4 linked regions of the Homo sapiens genome follow. The protein of the gene in region 3 interacts with the protein of the main gene of each other region in a biochemical or structural test. Each region holds a gene or a part of one and is shown on either strand. Other genes may lie near its edges.

Region 1 (7,029 bases), on a different chromosome or scaffold from region 3:
ATATAATAAATCTTATGTTTTTTAAACTCTTCTTGATTTTTTTCTAATTGCGTTCTCAGGATAACCTTCTAAAGTACTTAGCTTTCAGCTAATAATAAAAAAATTAATAACAACTAATATTTATTGCATGTTTACATGTACCAGATGCTGTCTTTAGTCCTTTACATTTATTAACTTAATTAGTCTCTCCAAAATCTCAGAAGGTAGGTGTTCATTTTGTAACTGAAAAGTTAAATGACTTGCCCAAAAGTAAGTCAGCTTTTATGTAACATCCAAGATTCAGACCTGTGTAGCATGGTTTTGGAGCTCCTAACCACTCTGCTCTACCTCTGGTTAGTGCTGTATGGCGTATGGTTTTAGGGTAGAATACAGGGGATTGCTTGATTGAGAGGGAGAGGCATCAAAAATGACTGGGTTTCTAGCCTCTAAAAGGATAACATATGATATCAAACAGAAAAAGGCAACCTAAGTAGAGGGAAAAGTTTTCTGAAGGAACAAGTGAGTTGACTTTTAGAAATTTTGAGTTTAAGTACAGCAGTCAATTGGAAAATAAGGTTTTGAGCTCAGTAGAGATAGAGGAATTAAGATGTAGATCTCTGAGACACATATCTGTGAGACTTTAATTACCTAAAGATTGGGTAATTGAAGCATTGAGGAGTGAAAAAAAAAAACAAGAATTTACCTGAGTTCACATAAAAGGGGCAGAAGAGAAGAGGCCCAAGATCCCATCTTGAAGAATTTAAGAAACAGGTAGAGAGAAGAGGCCTGCCAAGGAGATGAGGATCAGCACCACATCAGTGAGGCAGAAGGAAAAGGGAAGTATAAACAAAGTATTTTTCAGGCATTGCATGCCTTAGCGTTTTATTTTTAGCATGCTTCTGAATAGCTAATGGGATAGATTTAAACATGTGAGGCTTAGTCTTAATAGTTTGAGAATCACCTTTGCAATATGTGGTCAGCTAAATGCAAAGGTTTAGATATTGATAAGACAATGTTCAAAACTGACTACAGGCTGGGCACAGTGGTTCATGCCTATAATCCCAGCACTTTGGGAGGCCGAGGCGGGTGGATCACCTAAGGTCAGGAGTTCGAGACCAGCCTGGCCAACATGGTGAAACCCTGTCTCCACTAAAAATGCAAAAATTAGCTGGGCGTGATGGTGCGCCCCTGTAATCCCAGCTACTCGGGAGACTGAGATGGGGGGATTGCTTGAACCCAGGAGGTGGAGGCTGCAGTGAGCCAAGATCGTACCACTGCACTCCAGCCTGGGAAACAGTGAGACCCCATCTCAACAACAACAACAACAAAAAACTGACTACAATTTAATTTTCTTGCCAGGTGACACTATCAAAATTGACCAAGATTTACTATTATCTTCACCTATAAGACTGAATTAAAGAAAAAAAATAAAAATAAAAAGATTTACTATTTACTGCTTTGTGAGAGACCATTCACATACTATTTATTACAGTATATTATAATTGTTGTAGTTATTGTTAATCTCATAAATTAAACTTTGTCACAGATATGCATGTATAGTATTTATATATAGTGTTTGGTACTATTCATGGTTTCAGGCATCCACTGGGGGTCCTGGAATGTACCCCCTGCAGATAAGTGGGGAGACTACTGTATCGTATACTCTATTTTTATTATCTTACAAGACTGGGGTCAAGATGAGGTATTATAGGTGTCATTTTGTCTTCTTCCTAGATCAGATTTTTTTTAAAAAAATTCTAATTTTTGTGGGTACATAGAAGGCATATATATTGATGGGTACATGAGATGTTTTGATATAGACATGCAATGTGTAATAAGAATATCATAGAGAATGGGGTATCCATCCCCTCAAGCATTTATCCTCTGTGTTACAAACAAACCAATTATACTCATTTACTTTAAAATGTACAATTAGTTATTGACTATAGTCACCCTGTTGTGCTATCAAATAGTAGGTCTTATTCATTACTTATAACTTTTTTTTTTTTTTTTGGTACCCATTAGCCATCTTCCCTGCCTCCCACTACCATTTTCAGCCTCTGGTAACCATCCTCCTACTCTCTACGTCCGTGAGTTCAGTTGTTTTGGTTTTCAGATCCCACAAAAAAGTGAGAACGTTCAATGTTTTTCTGTGCCTGACTTCTTTCACTTAACATAATGGTCTACAGTCCCATCCATGTTATTGCAAATGACAGGATGTCATTCATTTTTGTGGCCAAATAGTACTCCATTGTGTATGTGTACCACATTTTCTTTATCCATTCATCTGTTGATGGACACTTAGGTTGCTTCCATATCTGAGATATTGTAAATAGTGCTGCAATGAACATGGGAGTGCAAATATCTCTTCAATATAGTGATATCCTTTCTTTTGGGTATATACCCAGCAGTGGGATTGCTGGATCATATGGTAGCTCTATTTTTGTATTTTTTGAGGAACTGCCAAACTGTTCTCATTAATGGTTGTAGTAATTTACATTCCTACCAACAATATCTAAAAAAAAAAATACAAAAAATTAGCCGGGAGTGGTGGCGGGCACCTGTAGCCCCAGCTACTTGGGAGGCTGAGACAGGAGAATGACGTGAACCCAGGAGGTGGAGCTTGCAGTGAGCTGAGATCGCGACAATACATGTCGCGACAATATATGAGGGTTTCCTTTTCTCCACATCCTTGCCAGCATTTGTTATTGACTGTCTTTTGTATATAAGCCATTTTAACTGGGGTGAGATGATATCCCATTGTAGTTTTGATTTGCATTTCTCTGATGATAATGATGCGTACCTTTTCATATGCTTGTTTGCCATTTGTATGCCTTTTGGGAAATGTCTATTCAAATCTTTTGCCAATTTTTTAATCGGATTATTAGATTTTTTCCTTTAGTGTTGTTTGAGCTTCTTTTCTATTCTGGTTATTAATCTCTTGTCAGATGGGTTAGATCTGCTTTTTCATTATTTATATATTTTTTTGAGATAGGGTCTGTCTCTGTCACCCAGGCTGGTTTGCAGTGGTGTGATCACAACTCACTGCTACCTCGCCTCCCAGGCTCAAGCCATCCTCCCACTCATCCTCCCAAGTAGCTGGGGCTACAAGCGTGTGCCACCAGACCCAGCTAATTTTTGTATTTTATACACAGGGTTTGGCCGTGTTGCCCAGGCTGGTCTTGAACTCCTGAGCTCAAGTGATCCACCCACCTCAGCCTCCCAAAGTGTTGGGATTACAGGCATGAGCCACCATGCTTAAAAAAAAAAAAAAAAAGAAAAGAAAAGACGGGGTGCGGTGGCTCACGCCTGTAATCCCAGCACTTTGGGAGGCTGAGGTGGGCGGATCACGAGGTCAGGAGATCGAGACCATCCTGGCTAACATGGTGAAACCCCATCTCTACTAAAAAAAAAAAAAAAAAAGGCAAAAAATTAGCCAGGCATGGTGGCGGGTGCCTGTAGCCCCAGCTACTTGGGGGGCTGAGACAGGAGAATGACATGAACCCAGGAAGCAGAGCTTGCAGTGAGCTGGGACAGCGCCACTGCACTCCAGCCTGGGCGACAGAGCGAGACTCAGTTTCAAAATAAATAAATAAATAAGAATGTATTTAACTTTAAAAAACAGAGACAGGGTCTCACTAGGTTGCCCAGGCTGGTCTCAAACTCCTGGGCTCAAGTGATCCTCCTGCCTCAGCCTCCTAAGGTGCTGGGATTAGAGACATGAGCCACTGCACCCAGCCAACCACCGTGCTTTTAAAGAAGGACTCTAGGAGGGTAGTGATCTTATCCAGTGTGTTCCTCACTTTATTTCTAACCTCTAGAATATTATAGTGTAGGCTTGGTAAATACTGATGAGTTAAAATACAAAGCAGGCCAGAGAAGTGGAATACATTGTTGATCCTTTGAGAATTAGTGGTTTTGATAATGAATGTGAATTAGTCATTATAAAGATAAACTTTTACTTGTATGGTAAGCATTCTGAAATATCTTTGAACATAGAAGCCACTTGTATGTAGGAGAGAAAATTAATGAAGTTGTATCCCTTCTTTTTTTTATAAATTACAAGGATTATATTTAGAGACTCCAAGAACTTTAAAAGGTACATGAGCATTGGCTGGATTTCTTTATGAATAAGGGGAGCAAAATTGTCTGTGGAAGTTAAGTACCTGTATTAAGCAAATTAACTCTTTTGTTGGAAATAGAGGCACTATTTAAATCTTGGGAAACACCAACTTGCCTGATAAAAAGTAAAGACCCTTTTGCCTTTCCTCAGGGAACATATTAAAAACTATTTAAAAATGTTGATGTCTGTTAGTAGCCAACCCTGGAAAGTCTCTGGTGAAATGTCATAGGCTTCACTTGTCTCATCTTCCTATTTCAGAAACAATTCTGAGCTCTTCCAAGATAGGAAAGCACACTGCGAGAGTCCTATAGATGGCAGTGTTTGCTTTACTCTGAAAATGTTTTTACAGGTCATCATCAAGAATATGGGCTGGAATCTCGTTGGTCCTGTTGTTCGATGCCTTTTGTGTAAAGATAAAGAGGATAGTAAAAGAAAAGTTTATTTTTTGATCTTTGATTTATTGGTAAAGGTAAGTTAACAAAACAAGGTTCTCTTTATCATAACACACAGCAGTATTTTATAATTCCCTTTAATGTTTATTGTTTGGTAAGAAAGCTTTTGGTTCATGAAAGTACATGCAGAAAGGAACTCGTTGGAGAAAAGACCCAGTCTTATTGATTGGATAGGCAATTCCATTTCAGGATTTCCCAAATTTTCTGGATAAAAGAATTGTCTAACCTCATATTAACCTCATATCGGACCCATTGATTCAGCATCTCCAGGGAGAGACCTGGGAAGCTATATCTTAACAAGTAGCCTTATCGTATAGATGTGGAATACAAGCTTTAGAGAGGTAGTTCAAGGTCACATTTATCTTTTGGCAACATTGGAACTAGATTAAAATCTCAGTCCTCTTTCCTTTGTGGTATGTTCCCTAAAAGAAAATGGAAGGCCTAGAATACAAGTGATTAAAATTGAAGTAGGAATAGGGTAGAATACAGATCAGTTGTGACTAACAACCTTAGAAAGCGACCCTGGGTAAAAGGCTAGTAGAGTTTACAGTCAATATTTGATGGCCAAGAAAGATAAATTCTGAGAAAAAGTATATTATAAGAAACTGTTTAGTGATCAGTGCAAATATACCCAAATATATATTGGAAGGAGAGCTCCATCTGTATGAGTTATTGACTATGGGAGCTGGGAGCTTTTAAAAAACCAGTCAAGTGAGATGATAAGATATGGCCAGTCAGAAAGCAATGCAAAGTTTTACCTGTTCAAAAAATACAAAAGAGATTCCAGACTAGTCTAAATAGGCTTGCAGCATGGGATTGAAAGGTCCCACCTGCTGGAGCCCCTGAGAATCTGTTAAGGCAATTTCAGAGTGGACAGGTGAAGCTCAAAGGAAACCTGAGCCTAAAGATCCATTGACTTCTTGCTTTTTAGTTTTATAGTTACTTGACCATCACAGATTCTGTGTTTTGCTCATGCATATTTTTTCAACAATTGTATAAATAATTTTAATGTTAAGCAAAAACATAATTGTATAATATTTTGTCGATACATGCCTTCTTAAAAATAGTAATAATGTGGCTTTAAATACAACTTGTATTAAACAGGTTCAATTGTGAATATTTTTATAGTTATGCAATCCAAAGGAATTATTGTTGGGTTTGCTTGAACTGATTGAAGAGCCCTCTGGAAAACAGATATCCCAAAGTATTCTTCTTTTGCTTCAGCCATTACAAACAGGTAATGAGAATTTTGATATCAGAGTACTTCTTGTTGTATCTCTAAATGCCTTGATGGTTACCTCAAAATGTCAATACTACACCAAAGTAAAGTTTACAGCTAATTAGTGAGTACTCTGCTTAAACCAATAATAGCAATGCCAATGTGAATACTGCTGCTCATAGAAAGATTATAGTATCTGGCCAGAGTGGGTACCCAGTAAATATTCTGTTGAATGTCATACTATTTTTCATGTGCTATATTGAAAACTATACCTTTTTGCCTAACCTTCCTATCTGCTGCTTAAATCTAGAATTTTCTCTCTAAACATGTTTCAAGGGTTACCTCTGTGGTGTCTGCAGTACTAAATCTGATAGCATTATGGTAGTCTGGAAGAGTATCAGGCAAGGCATTGCTCAGCCTCTGCTTTGGGAGGTTGGATTGGGCATAGCAAAGCTACTACTGAAGAATGAAACGAGGAGATATGGGATGATAAGGCTCCATGGCTGAGTGCAGTAACAGTATTGGTAGGTAATGGGTCTTAGCAACCAAGGCAGACAGTATCCATAGGAAGAGGTTATTTTTCATTTTAGGAAATTCGTTTATCTCACAATCTGATAGAGGGACCTAGAATCAGAAATTAAATTTGTTTTAAATATGAATGCCTGCCAGCTTCATACTACCTGTAATATTCAGTCTTCTAGGGAAAAAAAATCTAATAATACCACCTCCTATTTGTGTAGTGCTTTATAGTTTACAATACACTTATATTTTGTGCTTATAACAACCCAAAAACATGGAAAGAACATGTTTCTGTCTTAAGTACATAGCCTGTTACACATAGTCTGTTATAAACATAACCTAAACAGCATTTCATGGCAAGATGCTGTATTATTTTATGCACAACTAAGAAGAAAAAAACACTGCCAATTAGACTGTGATGTGTCATCTTGATTCAAGAGTTGTTAAAATGTGGGAGGAGGAAGTGTCTTATAATTCCACATTTGCCGAATTTCTTGTCCCATGTTTAGCATACTTGATGAGCGACAACTTGATCTCTGTTTTAGTGATTCAGAAACTTCATAACAAGGCATATTCAATTGGATTAGCATTGTCTACCCTTTGGAATCAGCTATCTCTTCTTCCTGTTCCATACTCAAAAGAACAAATACAAATGGATGACTATGGCCTTTGTCAGTGTTGCAAGGCCTTAATAGAGTTCACTAAGCCTTTTGTGGAAGAAGTCATTGATAACAAAG
Region 2 (7,029 bases), on a different chromosome or scaffold from region 3:
CCCAGCGTTGGCACCCCCGCTGTGGCACCATGACGGTGAGCACTGTGCGAGGTCAGGGCTCCCAGGAAGGGCACTTGGCACAGATCACACACACATTTATCACACCGTCTGCTCAGCAGTTGCCTCTGCAGGGAGAGGGGGCATGGGAAATCTAAAATTCAGCATTGACCTTGGGGAGAAGCTGAGCTTTCATAGCACCAGCAAATCCTGTCTAATTACGCTCTGTCCGGCACTGAAAGGAGCTGGCACTCCCCCAGCGAGCAGACAACAGGGGCAGAGACAGGCAGCGTGGACAGGAGGCTGTGGGCAGAAGCAGTTTACACTGGGCTCAAATCTGCCACACATGCACCCCCTCTCACACAAACCACAAACCTCCAGACCCACCCCCCACGACTGGCCTTAGGGAGGCCGCGTGGCTCTCACTGGTTGGGATGGGACATGACCAAGCACCACGCTCAGACCTCCTGACTCTAATGACCCGCAGGCCCTCCAGAGTTCACTGCCAGGTACCGGCGTCCCAGGAGGTGAAGGCGGTGAGTCCTGGTGGAGCCCGGCACTCCGGGACCCTCTCACCCTGCCTTCCTCGGGAAGCACCAAGCACTCCCGGAGCCCCGGGTGGAGTACGAGCTTGTGCTGTCCTCATCCAGGGTACTCCAGCCCAAAACCCAGGAGAGCTGTGACAGAGGTGGCCGCCTTCTGAGAGAGGCTGACCCGCGCACCTCGGAGGGACTCCAGCCCTTGTGAGCTGCAAGGGCTGCCTCACAACAACCAAGAGACCCTTCTGTGATGCAGGACAAGAACTGGGGTTGGCACGGGGCTCCGCTCAGCACCATCACAGCCAGATGCGGCACCGGGCCTGGAACTGCCAGTCCCAGCGCAGACAGGGCAGCCAGCAGGTCTTTGGACTTCAGACACTTAAGTCTCGCCCCTAATAGGTATTTCCAGGTGGAACTCCAAGGAACAATTGGAAAACTACTGGTTCTGACTGTTCCTGGGGTCCCATGCAGCTGTGTCTGCGGGCAAGGAAGGACAGTCCTGTTAGAAGGTGGCTGGAGCTCAGCAGGGAGCCCCAGGTGTAAGCCCAGTCACCTGCATCCTTGGATTTCCCCAAGACAGGGTTCCCGGAGACCCTACAATGACCCCTCCCTCAATCCAACATTTGTGAGCACCCATAAAATGCCATAAGCTGTGCCACACAATGGAGATCCTGGGCAGAGTCGGGTGGGCCCTGCCCTCAGGGACTCTCGGCCTAGAGGAACTCCAACAGCTGCACACTGTCCCTCCTGCCTGACAGCCACAGCCATACCATCAGCATGCTGCCTCCAGACCAATGACCTGGTGGCTCCTCTCCACCCCTAACAAGGGAATCTCAGTAGTTAGGGAGACTCCTGTGGACTCTCCCTCCCCTTCCCACCAATTCCTCCAGTACTGTCCCTCCTAGGACCCACCCAGGCCATGAGCAAACGCCCCACCTCTCAGGGAAAACAGCTCTCAAAGCAGCAACGGAGCCAACCCTGAGGCAGTGGCCCCCACCCCAGCGGTGCCTCAGTCTCACTGAGCCCACACAACGCACACCGCAGTCAGGATCTGCAGGCCAGGGGCAAGCAATCCAACCAGCATCACACCCCGGAAGACGTGAGCTATTTTTCTAGGGCCCAGGAGAGTGTGTGAATACACCGCATGATGTCAGGGCGGGGCTGGACATCCACCCGCCAAGAGAGGGCACGGAGGCCAGGGAGACTTTCCGCCCAATACTCTGCCTGAACCTTGGCAGCATTTCCACAACTGATCAGCACTGACTGAAACCCTGGCAAAGTGCTGTTAATCAGAGCAGAGGGGATCCGCGCACTCAGTGGAAACCTAATTCCCTCCCCAAGGACAGGGTGTTTTCCCTGCTGCCCTGGGGAGCCAGGAGCAACACAGAGCCGCCATTGAGACCGGCACCCTTTGCTAGGGCCCTCCAACCCCAAGACCCAGCATGGACCCGAGACCCTGATCCACCCCATGACCTCCTAAGCCTGTCACTCCTACACCACTTGGCATTTCTGCCAGACCTGCATTCCAATTCTTCCAGAGGGAAGAGGAAACCAGGAGACCCAGCAAAAGAATCTGTGCCAGCACCGCAGCCTCAATGAACAGACACAGCAAGTGTTCCCATTTCATGCCACCCTCCTCTAGGACATCAAGCATAACTGATACCTGCCCCACAGCATGAGTGGCCTCAGAAGGAATGTCCTGGCAACCATGACACAGGGCGTGTCAGGCTTCCAGCCAGCTGGGTTCTCATTTCCTACGGCCTGGCAGGTACCGTGCACAGCCCCCTTGCTCCCAGGGACTGGGATCTGATTTCTTAAGACCTGGCAGGTACCATGCACAGCCCCCTTGCTCCCAGGGACTAGGATGTGATTTCTTATAACCTGGCAGGTACCGTGCACAGCCCCCTTGCTTCCTGGGGCTGTCTGGGCCGACCCTCGCCCCGCCTGAACCCACCTCGTAGTTCCTGGCACTGGTGCTGGCTGCTCTCTCCAGCTCCACTCGAGCCCTCTTGTGACTCAGCTCCATCTGCATTTTCTCCCGCTCCACCTGGATGAGGTGGGACTTCGAACGGATCTGCTCTGCTCTTTCCTCCAGCTGAGCAGGTCGCACCCAAAGAAAAACAGAATCCTCAGTGACGGCATCAAACCAGGTGAGTGACTCAGTGCAGCAGACACACTCCCTGAGGACCCATTCCCGCAGGTCCCGTGCTAAGTCTTGATGTGGCCCAGCCACTGGGCTCCAGGCTGGGGAACAGGGGAGGGGCAGGAAACGGGAAGGTGAAAAAGCCTGGGAAGAGGAAGACGTCTTTTGAGATGACATTAAGCATATTAGTGAAGGCAACGGCCTCGAATGCCACCCATTTATTTACCAGCCAACGGCTCCGTGGGTCGGAAGTCCAGACGTAGGTGGCTGCATTCTCTGACCAGGGTCTCCCAGACTAAAAATCAATGCAGTCGGCCAGGACATGTTCTCACGTGGAGCTCAGAGATGGAGAATGAGGTCTCCTTCCCGACTGGCTGCCAGCCCAGTACAGCCATCAACTCCTAGGTGCTGCCCACATCCCTTGCCACACGGCCCTCTCCATCTCCAAAGTCAACCACGTCCAATCTCCCTCATCAAATCCCTCTCCTGCTATGTCTCTTGACTGCTCGGCCTCGGACGTCTGGACTCAGACTTAAAGGGCTCAGGTGAGTACATCAAGCCCACCAGGGAGTGGATCAAGCCCACCCACGTAATCTCCCTATCTCAAGGTCAACAGATCTTAGACCTTAATTACATCTGCACAATCCCACAGCAATGAAACCTACTCAGTATTGGACTGAAACCTGGGAGGCAGTAGGAAGGTGAGTGTGCACAAGGAGCCTGGAATCTGGGGGCCCTCTCAGAAGCCTGCCTACCACACAGGGTTAGTGATTACAGGTGAGCTGAGCCTCTGGGGGCCCTCTCAGAAGTCTGCCTGCCACACAGGACTAGTGATTACAGGTGAGCTGAGCTCCTGGGGGCCCTCTCAGAAGTCTGCCTACCACACAGGGCTAGTGATTACAGGTTAGCTGAGCCTCAAAGAGCCCCAGAAGACTTGCCAAATAGTTCCAGAGCCGGCCTTTGGGTACGACCTGCTCAGCTGGAGGAAAAGGCAGAGTCACTGACTCTTCACGTGGCCCAGAGCCTTGCAGTGCAGCATCTCCCGGCACTTAACAAATGCAGAGTCGCAGACTACACCCCAGACCTACTCAGTCAGAATCTTCTCTTTAGGTTGGGTGTGGTGGCTCACACCTGTAATCCCAGTACTTTGAGAGGCCAAGGCGGGTGGATCACTTGAGGCCAGGAGTTCAAGACCAGCCTGGCCAACATGGGGAAACCCCGTCTCTACTAAAAATACAAAAATTAGCTGGTCGTGGTGGTACGCACCTGTAACCCCAGCTACTCAGGCTGAGGCAGGAGAATCGCTTGAACCCAGGAGGCGAAGGTTGCAGTGAGCCAAGATCACACCACTGCATTCCAGCCTGGATGACAGGGCAAGAGTTCGTCTCAAAAAAAAAAAAACAAAAGAATCTAGGCCAGGCGTGGTGGCTCACGTCTGTAATCCCAGCAGTTCGGGGGGCCAAGGTGGGTACATAACTTGAGGTCAGGAGTTTGAGACCAGCCTGGCCAACATGGTGAAACCCTGTCTCTACTCAAAACTATGAAAATTAGCCGAGTGTGGTGGTAACGCACCTGTAATCTCAGCTACTCGGGAGGCTGAGGAGGGAGAATCACTTGAACCCAGGAGACGGAGGCTGCAGTGAGCCAACATTGTACCACTGCACTCCAGCCTGGATGACAGAGTAAGACCCTATCTCCAAAAGAAAAAAAGAAACTTCTTTTTAGACACATTCTCAGGGCGTTCACATGCACATGAAAGGTTGAGAAGCACCAGAGTAGAGTGGTGGTTCCCAGTGGGGTCCAGTTTTGCCCCTGGGAACATCTGGCCCTGTCTGGAGACACCTGATTGTCACAGGGGGGTGGTCACATGTGTCTGCTGCTGGCTGGCGTCCAGGGGGTAGAGGCCAGGGAAGTTGTTAAACAGCCCACAATGCACAAGAAAGTCCTGAGAAAAAAGAATTACCCAGCCCAAATGCCAAGCGTGCCAAGGCCAGGAAAGCCTGGGACAGGGGAGGGAAGTTTCTCTGTCCTCCCACCTGTGTTCTCTGGTGGCCCAAGCCCACACTTCCTTTACTCCTATGTTACTGTGTCTCGATTCTCAGCTGCTGCTGTTTGGGCGTTCCTAAGACTGCCCTTCAAACTCAGCAGCCTTCCTGGTCTCACTTCTGTGTCTGCAGTCAAGCCTGAGCCTCTCGAGAAGGGTGGGCACCCCGCCTGCAGGGGGCACGACCGGCAGGGACCAGGAGTCCCAGACACACCTGATCCGTGTGCCACCTCTGCCTGGAGCTGACTACAACGGAAAGAAAGGAACCCTGAAAGTTTACCCTTACGTTAAATCAACACGATGTGTGAGAAACCAGACAGCACACATTCCCCCGGCCTGCCATGTTCTCCAGGCCCTCCCTGCCACGCCGGGGGCTCAGCAGGAGAGAGAGAACCACGACGAAGTCCAGGAATGGGATGTGACAGGGGCCAGGGACCAAGGCTGGTCTTGCCGCCATCACTCCGCTCACCACCTTGCTCTGACTACCGCACTCCATCACTGATCCCCTCACCGAGAGGCCTTTACCAGTGAGCACTGGGGGCCTCCGAGCCCCAAGACAGACTCTAGAATCCCACAGCTTTGACAGACAGGCCAAGAGGTCCCAGACATTCGCAACACTAAAATCACAGCATTTCAGACCAGAGTTGCCAACTCTGTCACCCGGGCTGGAGTGCAGTGGCGCGATGGCTCACTGCAACCTCCGCCTCCCAGGTTCAAGCGATTCTCCTGCCTCAGCCTCCCGAGTAGGTGGGATTACAGGTGCCCACACCCGCCTAATTTTTGTATTTTTAGTAGAGATGAGGTCTTACCATGTTGGTCAGGCTGGTCTCAAATTCCTGACCTCAAGTGATCCAGCCACCTCAGCCTCCCAAAGTGCTGGGGTTATAGGCATGAGCCACTGCAACCAGCTCAGAGTTGGCCACTTCTCATTTTGTCAGTGATAAAAAACAACTACCATCTATTACCTTCATAATTTCACAAAAGAACATTTACATAAATATTATATATATACACACACACATATATATATATATGACCTAATCTCAGAATAAAAAACAGTCCTCATCAAGAAAGGGCAGTGAGCAAGCTAGCAACTAGCATTCTTTTTTTTTTTTTGAGACAGGGTCTCACTCTGTCACCCAGGCTGGAGTGCGGTGGCGCAATCTCAGCTCACTGCAAGCTCTGACTCCCGGGTTCACACCATTCTCCTGCTCCAGCCTCCCGAGTAGCTGGGACTACAGGTGCCACGCCCAGCTAATTTTTTGTATTTTTAGTAGAGACAGGGTTTCACCGTGTTAGCCAGGATGATCTTGATCTCCTGACCTCATGATCCGCCCACCTCAGCCTCCCAAAGTGCTGGGATTACAGGCCTGAGCCACCACATCTGGCCACAAGCTAGCATTCTAATAAACACACATTAATTCAATTATGCAACAAAACAAATGCACACGCACACACAGTTTAACCAAATGCAGCAGGGCCTCATCTGGGCTCTGAGAGCGCAGGAAGCCAGAGCCTCCTCTAATGCGGACAGAACTACAGAACGGCTCTGGGGACCGCAGCAGGGACTGGGAAAGAGGGTCCAGGCAGAGGAGCCTAGAGGAGCCTGCGCAGCCACAGGGCCCAGGCAAGGCTGGAGACACTACTAGCCAGCACTCCACTCCCCACCACTCCCTACAACTTGGGGGCCCCATTATCGCAGCCCCAACTGGGACTGGGCTCATCACTCTTTGGAGCCTGAAGTCCTTCAGGAGGCCTGAATCCTCTGCAGTTGTGTCTACAGTGAGAAACCCCAAGAACTTGTAATGAAACAAAATACAACTATTTTATAGAAGAAAACTGTAAAAATCACCCCAAAATCTGTAAATGGCCCTCCACAGTCTGAGACCACAAAACACCCAGTCCTTCTGCTCACTGCTGTGGCTTTGTCTCTGGGCTGCCCAGGCACTCTCAGCACTGTGTTTCCAACACAGCCTTCCCGACAGTCCTGGTGCTCACTCCCCCAGGCAGTTTGGGTTCTGTCCTCAATTAGATGAATGAACTGGCTTTCCGATCCTGTCACCAGGGTCTGTGAGTGCACTTGTGTGAACGCAATGCTGAGCGCCAGGCCCACTCAGGGCGCTAACAAGGCAGGCCTTTAAGCCAGGATGGCTCAGGGCCCCAACTAGCCTCCAGCTACGACCCCAAAATGAGGAGTGCCCATAGTGAGACCTGGGAGACGAATAGCTGTCTCTAGGCTCTGCTAATACCGACCCACCTCAACTACAGAAGACTGGAAGAGGTCCTGCCCGGGCCCAGGGTCTCCC
Region 3 (7,029 bases):
TTATGCAGGTTAAAATATAGACTATTTTTCTTTAAGAGAGAAATGTACGAACAGTACCCTTGATTATACCCCTGCAAATAGGGCATTTTCTTAGAGAAGGGGCACATTCCTGGCATACTACCAGATGACCACAAGGAATAAATACAACAGAAACTTCTTTGTCCATACACACTTTACAAGTTCGTTCTTCTTGCAACCTCCTCAATTGTTCTTCCAGTGACAGACCTAATAACAAAAAATAACTTTAGTGAAATTGTTTCCACTTCATTAAAAAAAAAGGGTAATAGTTCATGTTGGTTTTAAATCTTTGTTTTACCTGAAACATCTTCTGTTGGAATATACTTCATATTCTTATCCACTGAGGAAAGAAAACATAAAAACCATTACTCTACTAAATACAAAACTGAGCCACCGCATCTGGCCAGTCCTAAGAATTTCTAAAATAATTTTCCCAACAAACTCACCAAATAAGTTCTTATACAATGTAGAGTCAATTTCTTTTAGACAGTTTTTGAAGATGTTGGCCGCAGCATTTCCTTTAACCAAAATGGTATCAATCAGTTCTCTCGCTTGTAAAGGTATCTGTGTTTTTTGTTTAATAATATCATGTTCCTGTTTATTAATTACATTGGCCTTTAAAAGATTATCCAGGATAGGAAGCACACATGTCAATTGTTGAAAGAGAGCCATTCTGTTCTTCCGAATTAATGACAAATCATCTTCATTAAAAAAAGAAAAAGAAATCCATTAGATTTTAAACTCCTTTAACTATACTCATATAGTCACTAATAACCAACCCTACAAACAATTTAGGCACTAAATAAAGTTCAAAAAAGAACAAAGTAACTTGTTTGCATTTGTAAGTTTGTTGTTTGGAAAACTTCCAGAGGAAGTCTCTGTTTAATTTTTAAGTCTATATATTTACATGTCCTAGAACTCCGCTTTTACTTTATTTTGTTGCAAGAGATTTGTAGAAGACAGTAAAAATTTCCCCCCACCATATATAATAATACTCTTGTATTTCCATTATATCATTTTACTTTTGTAAGCACTTTCATAGTAATTTGTCTCATTTGATACAGTGATCCTGTCAATTAAACAAGGCGAGTATTACTGCCTCTCATTTTTACATAGGGAGAAAAAAGACTCAGAAAAGAATGAGTGGCCTAAGATCACAAGAAAGAATAAGCTGCAGAACCAGGCATCCTAGACCAGTGTTCTTTTCAACACCCCATACTTAAGACGTGGTATTGTAGTATTGTAGGGTTTGAGTTGCCAAGTCAAAACAGACCTAGGTTCCAGTGTTGGCTAGGCCCACTCACTAGCTATGTGTCCTCATCCTTCCCCATACACCTCAGTTTCCTCATCTGTAAAATATACATAACGGTACCTTCCTCAAAGTTGTAAGGATTGAATAATACATGTAAAGCATCTGGCACAATATGTGGTACATAGTTAACTACCATTATTATTTTATAAATGTCTATGTTTATAGCAATTAAAAAAAACTACCTAAGAATCAAGCCTGACCTTTTTTTAAAAAGCCAATGTTTTTCCTTTAATATCGCATCACATAAAACTCCACAGTTAATTTATATTTATGGAATATGGTAGTTCCTTCTTTTGGTATCTGAATCATTATAAAATTTGTCTATTTTCAGACTTTCAAAAAAATTTAAAAAGTACATCTCTACAAAGTACCAGTTTAATGAGAAATAAATTATAAAAACAGAAGCCTATCTTCTTTCCCCTTTTACATCTCTCTAGAAGTGAACTGCTCTATTAATCTCAAAACTATAAAATTCCATTCTGTGACAACTTTTTCTTCTACCTAAATAATTCCTCTCACTGCTAACCAATTTGTTCTTCACCTTTTCAAGATCTCCATGTCATTCCCAATTCTACTTGCACAAGAGCTATCTCCTGGCTTTGCTTCAAACCTCCTATTCTAATCTAGGTAGCAGTCAGGTATTTCAATGAAGTTCTCTATATTAGCACCCTTAACTCATCTTCCGTATTCCTTACTTGCCCTTTCCCCTATTAACACTGCCAAATCTGTAATTCAATACTATTTTCCAACCCATACAAAGTATGAGAAAGTCATAAATCTAAGGTGACAGTGATTTCATATAACCTTAGCTGGATTTCATTACTACTTAACAATCCTTAAATTGACTTTTCTTAGGCCCTTTCTTTCACCAAGTCCCTCCCACTTCCCAAGTCAATCTACCTAATGCTTAAAAAAAAAAAAAAATTGACGTGCTAGGAGCTGTGTTAAAGTGTTTTATTTGCAATATCTCATTTAATTCCTACAGCAACCCTATGGGAGTCATACTATTATTATCCCCATTTTACAGATGAGAAAGCCGATGTCTGGTTGAATAAATAGCCAAGCTAGTAACTGATAGAACTGGAATTTTTTTTTTTTTTTTTTTGAGATGGAGTCTGGCTCTGTCACCCAGGCTGGAGTGCAGGGGCACGATCTCGGCTCACTGCAAGCTCTGCCTCCCGGGTTCACGCCATTCTCCTGCCTCAGCCTCCCGAATAGCTGGGACTACAGGCATCCGCCACCATGCCCGGCTAATTTTTTGTATTTTTAGTCAAGACGGGGTTTCATCGTGTTAGCCAGGATGGTCTCAATTTCCTGACCTTGTGATCCGCCCGTCTTGGCCTCCCAAAGTGCTGGGATTACAGGCATGAGCCACCGCGCCCAGCCTGGAGCTAGAATTTAAACACAAATCTGTTTCAATGTAGAAGTCCAGACTTTAAATATTTTGCTACACGGTCATGCAATAAGGTACTCTTAAGTTATTCCTGTCTTTACTTACAAGCTTAAAAAGAAAGCATCTTCCAACGCAATACTCCAATACATATGCAACCTTCGCCTCTCTGCTGGCCCTTTAACCCTGTCTTTTGCACACTAGTCTCGCCAGCTAGTGTATATACTCCTTGACAGCAACCACTGTGATTAGGCACAGTATTTGGCACTGGTGCTCATGCTCAACAAATATTTATTGAAGGAGGGGAGGAGCCAAGATGGCCGAATAGGAACAGCTCCGGTGTACAGCTCCCAGCGTGAGCGACGCACAAGACGGGTGATTTCTGCATTTCCATCTGAGGTACCGGGTTCATCTCACTAGGGAGTGCCAGACAGTGGGCGCAGGCCAGTGGGTGCGCGCACCGTGTGCAAACCGAAGCAGGGCAAGGCATTGCCACACTTGGGAAGCCCAAGGGGTCAAGGAGTTCCCTTTCCGAGTCAAAGAAAGGGGTAACGGACGCACCTGGAAAATCGGGTCACTCCCACCCGAATATTGCGCTTTTCAGACTGGCTTAAAAAACGGCGAACCAAGAGATTATATCCCACACCTGGCTCGGAGGGTCCTACGCCCACGGAGTCTCGCTGATTGCTAGCACAGCAGTCTGAGATCAAACTGCAAGGCAGCAGCGAGGCTGGGGGAGGGGCGCCCGCCATTGCCCAGGCTTGATTAGGTAAACAAAGCAGCCAGGAACTCGAACTGGGTGGAGCCCACCACAGCTCAAGGAGGCCTGCCTGCCTCTGTAGGCTCCACCTCTGGGGGCAGGGCACAGACAAACAAAAAGACAGCAGTAACCTCTGCAGACTTAAGTGTCCCTGTCTGACAGCTTTGAAGAGAGCAGTGGTTCTCCCAGCACGCAGCTGGAGATCTGAGAACCGGCAGACTGCCTCCTCAAGTGGGTCCCTGACCCCTGACCCCCGAGCAGCCTAACTGGGAGGCACCCCCCAGCAGGGGCACACTGACACCTCACACGGCAGGGTATTCCAACAGACCTGCAGCTGAGGGTCCTGTCTGTTAGAAGGAAAACTAACAAACAGAAAGGACATCCACACCGAAAACCCATCTGTACATCACCATCATCAAAGACCAAAAATAGATAAAACCACAAAGATGGGGGAAAAACAGAACAGAAAAGCTGGAAACTCTAAAACGCAGAGCGCCTCTCCTCTTCCAAAGGAACGCAGTTCCTCACCAGCAACGGAACAAAGCTGGATGGAGAATGACTTTGATGAGCTGAGAGAAGAAGGCTTCAGACGATCAAATTACTCTGAGCTACAGGAGGACATTCAAACCAAAGGCAAAGAAGTTGAAAACTTTGAAAAAAATTTAGAAGAATGTATAACTAGAATAACCAATACAGAGAAGTGCTTAAAGGAGCTGATGGAGCTGAAAACCAAGGCTCGAGAACTACGTGAAGAATGCAGAAGCCTCAGGAGCCGATGCGATCAACTGGAAGAAAGGGTATCAGCAATGGAAGATGAAATGAATGAAATGAAGCGAGAAGGGAAGTTTAGAGAAAAAAGAATAAAAAGAAATGAGCAAAGCCTCCAAGAAATATGGGATTATGTGAAAAGACCAAATCTACGTCTGATTGGTGTACCTGAAAGTGATGGGGAGATTGGAACCAAGTTGGAAAACACTCTGCAGGATATTATCCAGGAGAACTTCCCCAATCTAGCAAGGCAGGCCAACGTTCAGATTCAGGAAATATAGAGAACGCCACAAAGATACTCCTCGAGAAGAGCAACTCCAAGACACATAATTGTCAGATTCACCAAAGTTGAAATGAAGGAAAAAATGTTAAGGGCAGCCAGAGAGAAAGGTCGGGTTACCCTCAAAGGGAAGCCCATCAGACTAACAACGGATCTCTCGGCAGAAACCCTACAAGCCAGAAGAGAGTGGGGGCCAATATTCAACATTCTTAAAGAAAAGAATTTTCAACCCAGAATTTCATATCCAGCCAAACTAAGCTTCATAAGTGAAGGAGAAATAAAATACTTCACAGACAAGCAAATGGTGAGAGATTTTGTCACCACCAGGCCTGCCCTAAAAGAGCTCCGGAAGGAAGCACTAAACATGGAAAGGAACAACCGGTACCAGCAGCTGCAAAATCATGCCAAAATGTAAAGACCATTGAGACTAGGAAGAAACTGCATCAACTAACGAGCAAAATCACCAGCTAACATCATAATGACAGGATCAAATTCACACATGACAATATTAACTTTAAATGTAAATGGACTAAATGCTCCAATTAAAAGACACAGACTGGCAAATTGGATAAAGAGTCAAGACCCATCAGTGTGCTGTATTCAGGAAACCCATCTCACGTGCAGAGACACACATAGGCTCAAAATAAAAGGATGGAGGAAGATCTACCAAGCAAATGGAAAACAAAAAGAGGCAGGGGTTGCAATCCTAGTCTCTGATAAAACGGACTTTAAACCAACAAAGATCAAAAGAGACAAAGAAGGCCATTACATAATGGTAAAGGGATCAATTCAACAAGAAGAGCTAACTATCCTAAATATATATGCACCCAATACAGGAGCACCCAGATTCATAAAGCAAGTCCTGAGTGACCTACAAAGAGACTTAGACTCCCACACATTAATAATGGGAGACTTTAACACCCCACTGTCAACATTAGACAGATCAACGAGACAGAAAGTCAACAAGGATACCCAGGAATTGAACTCAGCTCTGCACCAAGTGGACCTAATAGACATCTACAGAACTCTCCACCCCAAATCAACAGAATATACATTTTTTTCAGCACCACACCACACCTATTCCAAAATTGACCACATAGTTGGAAGTAAAGCTCTCCTCAGCAAATGTAAAAGAACAGAAATTATAACAAACTATCTCTCAGACCACAGTGCAATCAAACTAGAACTCAGGATTAAGAAACACTCAAAATCACTCAACTACATGGACACTGAACAACCTGCTCCTGAATGACTACTGGGTACATAACGAAATGAAGGCAGAAATAAAGATGTTCTTTGAAACCAATGAGAACAAACACACAACATACCAGAATCTCTGGGACACATTCAAAGCAGTGTGTAGAGGGAAATTTATAGCATTAAATGCCCTCAAGAGAAAGCAGGAAAGATCTAAAATTGACACCCTAATATCACAATTAAAAGAACTAGAGAAGCAAGAGCAAACACATTCAAAAGCTAGCAGAAGGCAGGAAATAACTAAGATCAGAGCAGAACTGAAGGAAATAGAGACACAAAAAAACCCTTCAAAAAATCAATGAATCCGGGAGCTGGTTTTTTGAAAAGATCAACAAAATAGATAGACCGCTAGCAAGACTAATAAAGAAGAAAAGAGAGAAGAATCAAATAGACGCAATAAAAAATGATAAAGGGGATATCACCACTGATCCCACAGAAATACAAACTACCATCAGAGAATACTACAAACACCTCTACACAAATAAACTAGAAAATCTAGAAGAAATGGATAAATTCCTCAACACATACACTCTCCCAAGACTAAACCAGGAAGAAGCTGAATCTCTGAATAGACCAATAACAGGATCTGAAATTGTGGCAATAATCAATAGCTTACCAACCAAAAAGAGTCCAGGACCAGATGGATTCACAGCGGAATTCTACCAGAGGTACAAGGAGGAACTGGTACCATTCCTTCTGAAACTATTCCAATCAATAGAAAAAGAGGGAATCCTCCCTAACTCATTTTATGAGGCCAGCATCATTCTGATACCAAAGCCGGGCAGAGACACAACAAAAAAAGAGAATTTTAGACCAATATCCTTGATGAACATTGATGCAAAAATCCTCAATAAAATACTGGCAAAACGAATCCAGCAGCATATCAAAAAGCTTATCCACCATGATCAAGTGGGCTTCATCCCTGGGATGCAAGGCTGGTTCAATATACGCAAATCAATAAATGTAATCCAGCATATAAACAGAGCCAAAGACAAAAACCACATGATTATCTCAATAGATGCAGAAAAAGCCTTTGACAAAATTCAACAACCCTTCATGCTAAAAACTCTCAATAAATTAGGTATTGATGGGACCTATTTCAAAATAATAAGAGCTATCTATGACAAACCCACAGCCAATATCATACTGAATGGGCAAAAACTGGAAGCATTCCCTTTGAAAACGGGCACAAGACAGGGATGCCCTCTCTCACCACTCCTATTCAACATAGTGTTGGAAGTTCT
Region 4 (6,167 bases), on a different chromosome or scaffold from region 3:
GATATTCTGATTCTTCATTCCTCAGAAACGAATGCTGTACAATTCCATGGGCCAGGCCAAGGGAGGGAGCCAGTGCAACCAAGCTCACCAGGCATCCGGCCGGATCCACCACTGGACTGGACTTCACGGTTCTAAGGTGTCAGGGTTTGAAAAGTTCCAAGTAACCTCCACTCTCCAGGGAACAGCAGAGATGAAAGAGATCAAAACATCCACAGTCTCAAGTACTCTCGACCGCCATCCCATTAAGCGAGGCAGAGCATTTCTCCCAGAGGAGCCACCTACCCAAAACTCACACTGCCACCTAGGAACTGCTACAGAAAATTCTAGTAAATAAGCCCCAAATCTATATTAATGTCCCCTTCCCCCATATAAAAAAAAAGACTAAATAATCTGAGTTTACATGATTTAGAAATTAGGATTTTACAGAGTCCAGGAAAGGAAAAGGAAGAAATTTAAAGAAATTCTTCATTTTTATAAAAGCATGAGAGAGCACTGAAAACCTGCCCTTAAGATGTTCTTAGGTACATATTTTAGGATTTTTATTGCTGATTACAGATTTGAAACTATGAAATGTGCACTGCTTGGCAAGTAACACAAGTAATTCTTTACTTATTCACATTTCCAATAAAAGCGTAAATAAACAGACAAAAAATATAAAGGACAAGAGAAATACAAATAGCAACAGCTTCAAAACAAAAGGATTTAGTAACAGAAAGTCTCCACAGTGTCCGTCAAAATTTAAGATTATCCAAACCGTGCAAACGCTCAACACAAACCAACGCCATACACTGAACTATTAATACTTGTCCCTTGAAGTTGCAAACTAGAAGCCACCCACATAACTGTATGATCACACAAACCAACTAATTTGCTCAAGGTTCAGGTTAAAGCAACATTTAATATCCTTTACAAGATGGAATTCGTGACAAGTTCAAAAGGAGAACTTCCTTTGTTTTAATGCAGCTGTGCTCAGAAGCCTGTGATTTCCTAGGAAACCATCTGGGTTTAGCCCATTAGAAAAATGCAGTTTAAAGCAGTGTCACACTGGCTGCCTGAAGGTACCCTTGGAGATACTGGAGCGCTTCTGCATTCAGGCTGGTGCTCACCATTGATGGAACCTACAAGAGATGGGAAACACACACTGGCTGTTGGAGATCTTGGTGCGCCAATACAAACCCCATCTTCTACGGGAGAGCTGCCACAGCTCTGGGAAGAGCAGCCAGTCAAGTCATTAATCACCATCCAAAAATTCTCCAGAAACTCAACTGCTTTTATGCCTTCAAAAATAGGTCTAAAGAAAAGATCCATAAGGAATTACTATTATTAGGTGTGATAGTGGTATTGTGGTTAATTAAAAAGTCCTTACTGGTTAATGATGTAGAATAAGGTACTTACGCGTGAAACGTATGATGTCTAAGACTTGCTCAATACAGAGAATAAAAGGAGAAACGAAACAAAACTGGCAAGATATTGGTAATTATTGAAGCTGGGCACATGCAGGCTTCATTATGCTCTTTCTATATATGTTTGAAAGTCTCCGTAATAATACAATGAAAAAATATATATACATATATATACACACGCCACACACATATATGTTTTTTAAGAAACGGGACCTCGCTCTGTTGCCCAGGCTGGATTGCAGTGGCACTGTAATAGCTCACTGCAGCCCTGGCCTCCCAAAGCACTAGAACTACAGGCATAAACCACTGTGTCTGGCTTGAAAAATATATATTTTATCAGGTAACATGTAAGAACTCTATAATAAGTGCTGACAAAATGCAACTATACAGTCATTATTAGGTTTATGCCATGATCTATTAATTTCTGAGTATGCTGCAATTAAAAAAAAATAACTGTGTCCAGGCTCACACTTGTAATCCCAGCACTTTGGGAGGCTGAGGGAGGAGGATGGCTTGAGCCCAGGAGGTTGAGACCAACCTGAACAACATAGGGAGACCCTGTCTCCACAAAAAAATAAAAAATTAGCTGGGCATAGTGGGTCCTAGCTACTTGGAAGGCTGACAGGCAGTAGGATCACTTGAACCTGGGAGGTTGAGGCTGCAGTGAGCCATAATCGTACTACTGCATTCCAGCCTGGATAAGAGTGAGACCCTGTCTAAAAAAATAAATAAATAAAAATAAAAATAAAAAAATGCTACCACATTTTAATAATAGATGGATTACTTCGATCTGGGAAATAAACTCTTATTATAAAGTGCTGACAAAATGCAACTATACAGCCTTATTACATTTCTATTGAAGGGATTTTTCCTCCTTTGTTCTCACTCCTAAATCCATTCACTTAAAATATATTTGTAGTACATAATACAAGAAAAAAAGGGCTCAGTGTTTTTAATTAAAGAAAATAAGCTTGCTGTAACTCAATGAGATTTAGTTTTATTACGCCCACCAATGAAAACAGACACCAGAACTACTACTATCCTTTTGCCCTCCCATTAAAGTCTCCATTTATCACAGAGTTCTTTGACAACACACTTACCCTTCCTGGACAGGCGGTAGACAACTTGTGAAGTGACTGTGCCAGGTGAATTTTGGGGTTATTCACCATTTGACCTACAGGATCATGCTCTTTTTTCCCAGCAAATGCCAACTGTGAGAAGGCAGTCTGATATCCTGGTGTATCTTCTATGTCAATAAAATGTTCCTCATCAGGAATGGTATCATCTTCGGGTAACTCAAAAAGACCAATCAAAGACTGTAATAATGGAGTCCTGGATTGGAAGAAAGCAAGAGATAAAAAGGTCAAGAAAATACTCGGAAGACTTAAAACCAGCAATTGCTCAGAGACACAAAATTACAGACTCATAGTCTCAAGAATAAAAGGGGACCTTTGAAATTAAGATGGTTCTTTTCTTGGCTTATTCAGTTCTTCCCCTTAAAGATAAGTCAGTTTAGTTGGGCTTCTGTCATAAAATTGTCTTAGAGATCACCTAGATCAGACTCTTAAAGGGGTCCATGAATCCCCCTGAAAAAGAAGCAGGAAACAAGATCATTCTAAGCCCAGAAGGATCCAGAAATCATGTCTTGGATCTGATTGTGGAGAAGCTGAGATCAGACCAAGATTCTCTTGGCCCCCAAGAGAATAAGCTTTGTTAATTTTGCAGTCATATGGGAAGGAAGCTGTAACTTACAAAAATATTAAAATGAAGTACTTACCACAGTTTGGTATACTCAGTGTCCATCATTGGGGGACATTCTGTTAGTAATTTGGTTATGCCAACCGCACAGATCTTTTTCTCTACATTTCCAGATACCTTCTGAATTTCAGGAATAATAATTTTTTCCAAAACCATTCCAAACATTCTATTAAAGCAAAATAAATCAACTTAATATTAGATTATCACTATAATGAAATAGTAAAATGCTTAGATGTTAGTTACTTCTTATGAATATGATAAATTACTAAATAACAAGACTGCTGTTTTTGATCATCTGAAGAGACTGAAAGTCAAAACATAAAAAAACCCCATCACACCTCTACCCTGTAGCCAAATGCCATAATCTTTTTCTTTTCTTTTTTTTTTTGAGACGGAGTTTCGCTCTTGTTGCCCAGGCTGGAGTGGAACGGTGTGATCTCAGCTCACTACAACCTCCACCTCCTGGGTTCAAGCAATTTGCCTGCCTCAGCCCCCTGAGTAGGTGGGATTACAGGTGCCCACCACCACGCCCGGCAAATTTTTGTATTTTTAGTAGAGATGGGGTTTCATTGTGTTGGCCAGGCTGATCTCGAACTCCTGACCTCAGGTGATCCACCTGCCTCAGCCTCCCAAAGTGCTAGGATTACAGGCGTGAGCCACCATTCCTGGCCCTCTCTGCTTTTTTCTTTAAAAATTACACCTGGCCAGTCTCAAAAAAAAAAAAGAAAAAAAAAAAAAAAAGAGAGAGGAGCAAGGAGGGAAAAAAGGAATCATCCCACCACCCAGAAACAACTAGTTTTAACATTTTTGGGTTATAAGCTTCCCAACTGTCTTTGCTTACATACCTGCAGGTACATAAATGCTAATGGCTATTTAAAATAATTCGGCCAATCATTCTATGTTGTTGCAAACATGCTAGAAGTGAAGTTTTCCGTAATTCTAAATGATGCAAAATCCTCAGTTTATGCGTTAATAGAACCAATTCTTTGAAGTGGAAATATGGCTCAAAGGGTATGGCAATTCTAATGCTCTGGATAAAAAGTGCATACATTTTGCTCTCTAGAAAGATCAGGCTAATTCAGGCTCCCACTAGCAGTGCATGAGATTTCCTCAAAATCCCCTACTGCCGGAAGCCATGTTTTCTGGTCTCCTTTCCAGAGTAATTCATTTTTTAGTCAATGTAGAATTTTTGAGACATAACTGAGGTACAGGGATCTAACTGTCCCCGAAGAAATTTTCCCTAAGAGTTGTTCTTTATCTTATCGTTATAATTGTTTTATTCCCTACTAATGGGAAATGCCACCTAAATACATTCTTTGCATATATACCAGATAAGTCAAAAACAAAGTTAATTTATTGGTCCTAAGTATTTCTCATTTGAAAAATTCTGCTGTGTTTGCATTAGCAGCACATATACTAAAATTGGAACGATATGGATTAGCACGATTTTTTAAAAAAGGGGGAAGGAAAATTCTGGTTTTTTTTTTTAATTATACTTTAAGTTCTAGGGTACATGTGCACAACGTGCAGGTTTGTTACATATGTATACATGTGCCAAGTTGGTTTACTGCACCCATTAACTCGTCATTTACATTAGGTATTTCTGCTAATGCTATCCCTCCCTCTGCCCTCCCTTCCCCTGCCCCCCATCCCACGACAGGCCCCAGAGTGTGATGTTCCCCGCCCTGTGTCCAAGTGTTCTCATTGTTCAATTCCCACCTATGAGTGAGAACATGTGGTGTTTTCTGCTGTTAGTTTTAATAAGGCAGGCTCCTGGAGACAACACTGACCATTTAACATAATATAGAACACTGGCTGTGGAGAATGCCAGTGTGTAGAGTAGATGGTCCTCTAATCTAGAGGATTAGAACAATGATTCCAGGGTGTTTTTTCTTTTTTTGAGATGGAGTCTCACTATATTGCCCAGGCTGGTCTCAAACTCCTGAGCTAAATCCGCCCTCCTCAGCCTCTCAGAGTGTGGGATTACGGGCGTGAGCCACCATGCTGGGCCAGGATTACTTTTTCTTTACTCCCAATACCTAAGAATATTTTGAAAACCATAGACACTATCTCCATACCAAGAACCACATCATCATCTATAAGACAGAGATACTGATTTGTACTAAAAAAAAAGTCAAAACATTTTCTTCCTTTAAAAAATAATAAAAACAAACTTACTTTGGTTGTATACCATCAAATATTTCTTGTAGTGCTAGTGCCCCATATTTTATGCAATACAAATTAATAAAGACTAAAAAACCTGTTGAAAGAAGATGCAGAATATCAGCATAGAGAACTCACGCACTAAACTGGTAACTGATAAGTCTGCAAAATAAACCTATGCTTAATCATTAACATCCAAAGGCTGTGGCATCAATACCTGCCTTCTAGTAAATAGAAAACTTGTCTTTCTGTCATAGACCTTTACATGCTGTCTCTCTTTGATTTATATTTCCTTATAATATTCTCTCTACTGAAAAAATGTTTTGGTATCCAACCATAAACCAACCTCTGGAACACAATATGACTAACACTAACTTAATGTTTGGAGAACACAAACATCTTAAAATATTTTCTTTTTTCTTGTGAGAAGGTTTCACTCTATCACCTAGGCTGGGTGCAGGAGCGTGATCACAGCTCACGCAGCCTTAACTTCCCAGGGTCAAGTGATCCTCCCACCTCAGCCTCCTGAGTAGCTGGGGCTACAGGCACACACCACCATGCTTGGCTGTTTTGTAGAGACAGGGTCTTACCATGTTGCCCAGGCTGGTCGTTAACTCCTGGACTCAAGGAATACTCCCACTTTCACCTCCCAAAGTGCTGGGATTACAGATGAGAGCCACTGCACCAGGCCCTTACAATATTTTCTTTTTTTTTTTTGAGACAGGGTCTCACTCTGTCACCTAGGATGGAGTGCAGTGGGTGTAATCTTGGCTCACTGCAGCCTCAACCTCTGGGACTTAGGTGATGCTCCTACTTCAGCCTCCCAAGCAGCTGCGACTACAG

Evidence for each region.
Region 1: the proteins of BIRC2 (region 3) and GLMN form a complex in vitro, tested with the Homo sapiens proteins (one study listed by BioGRID).
Region 2: of the proteins of BIRC2 (region 3) and MAD1L1, one has a biochemical effect on the other in vitro, tested with the Homo sapiens proteins (one study listed by BioGRID).
Region 4: of the proteins of BIRC2 (region 3) and CSE1L, one has a biochemical effect on the other in vitro, tested with the Homo sapiens proteins (one study listed by BioGRID).

What each region holds. Positions count from the first base shown.
Region 1 is NC_000001.11:92,288,960-92,295,988, reverse strand, and holds part of GLMN (glomulin), read left to right. Parts: intron 1-4,451; coding exon 4,452-4,571; intron 4,572-5,658; exon of another isoform or gene 5,659-5,682; coding exon 5,683-5,791; intron 5,792-6,837; coding exon 6,838-7,029.
Region 2 is NC_000007.14:2,222,920-2,229,948, forward strand, and holds part of MAD1L1 (mitotic spindle assembly checkpoint protein MAD1), read right to left. Parts: intron 2,632-7,029; coding exon 2,491-2,631; intron 1-2,490. UniProt on the Homo sapiens protein: Component of the spindle-assembly checkpoint that prevents the onset of anaphase until all chromosomes are properly aligned at the metaphase plate.
Region 3 is NC_000011.10:102,371,186-102,378,214, reverse strand, and holds part of BIRC2 (baculoviral IAP repeat-containing protein 2), read right to left. Parts: intron 720-7,029; coding exon 465-719; intron 359-464; coding exon 317-358; intron 226-316; coding exon 32-225; 3' UTR 1-31. UniProt on the Homo sapiens protein: Multi-functional protein which regulates not only caspases and apoptosis, but also modulates inflammatory signaling and immunity, mitogenic kinase signaling, and cell proliferation, as well as cell invasion and metastasis.
Region 4 is NC_000020.11:49,091,300-49,097,466, reverse strand, and holds the end of CSE1L (exportin-2), read right to left. Parts: intron 5,422-6,167; coding exon 5,340-5,421; intron 3,328-5,339; coding exon 3,181-3,327; intron 2,736-3,180; coding exon 2,504-2,735; intron 1,292-2,503; coding exon of another isoform or gene 1,280-1,291; exon of another isoform or gene 1,119-1,279; coding exon 1,029-1,118; 3' UTR 518-1,028; downstream 1-517. UniProt on the Homo sapiens protein: Export receptor for importin-alpha. Mediates importin-alpha re-export from the nucleus to the cytoplasm after import substrates (cargos) have been released into the nucleoplasm.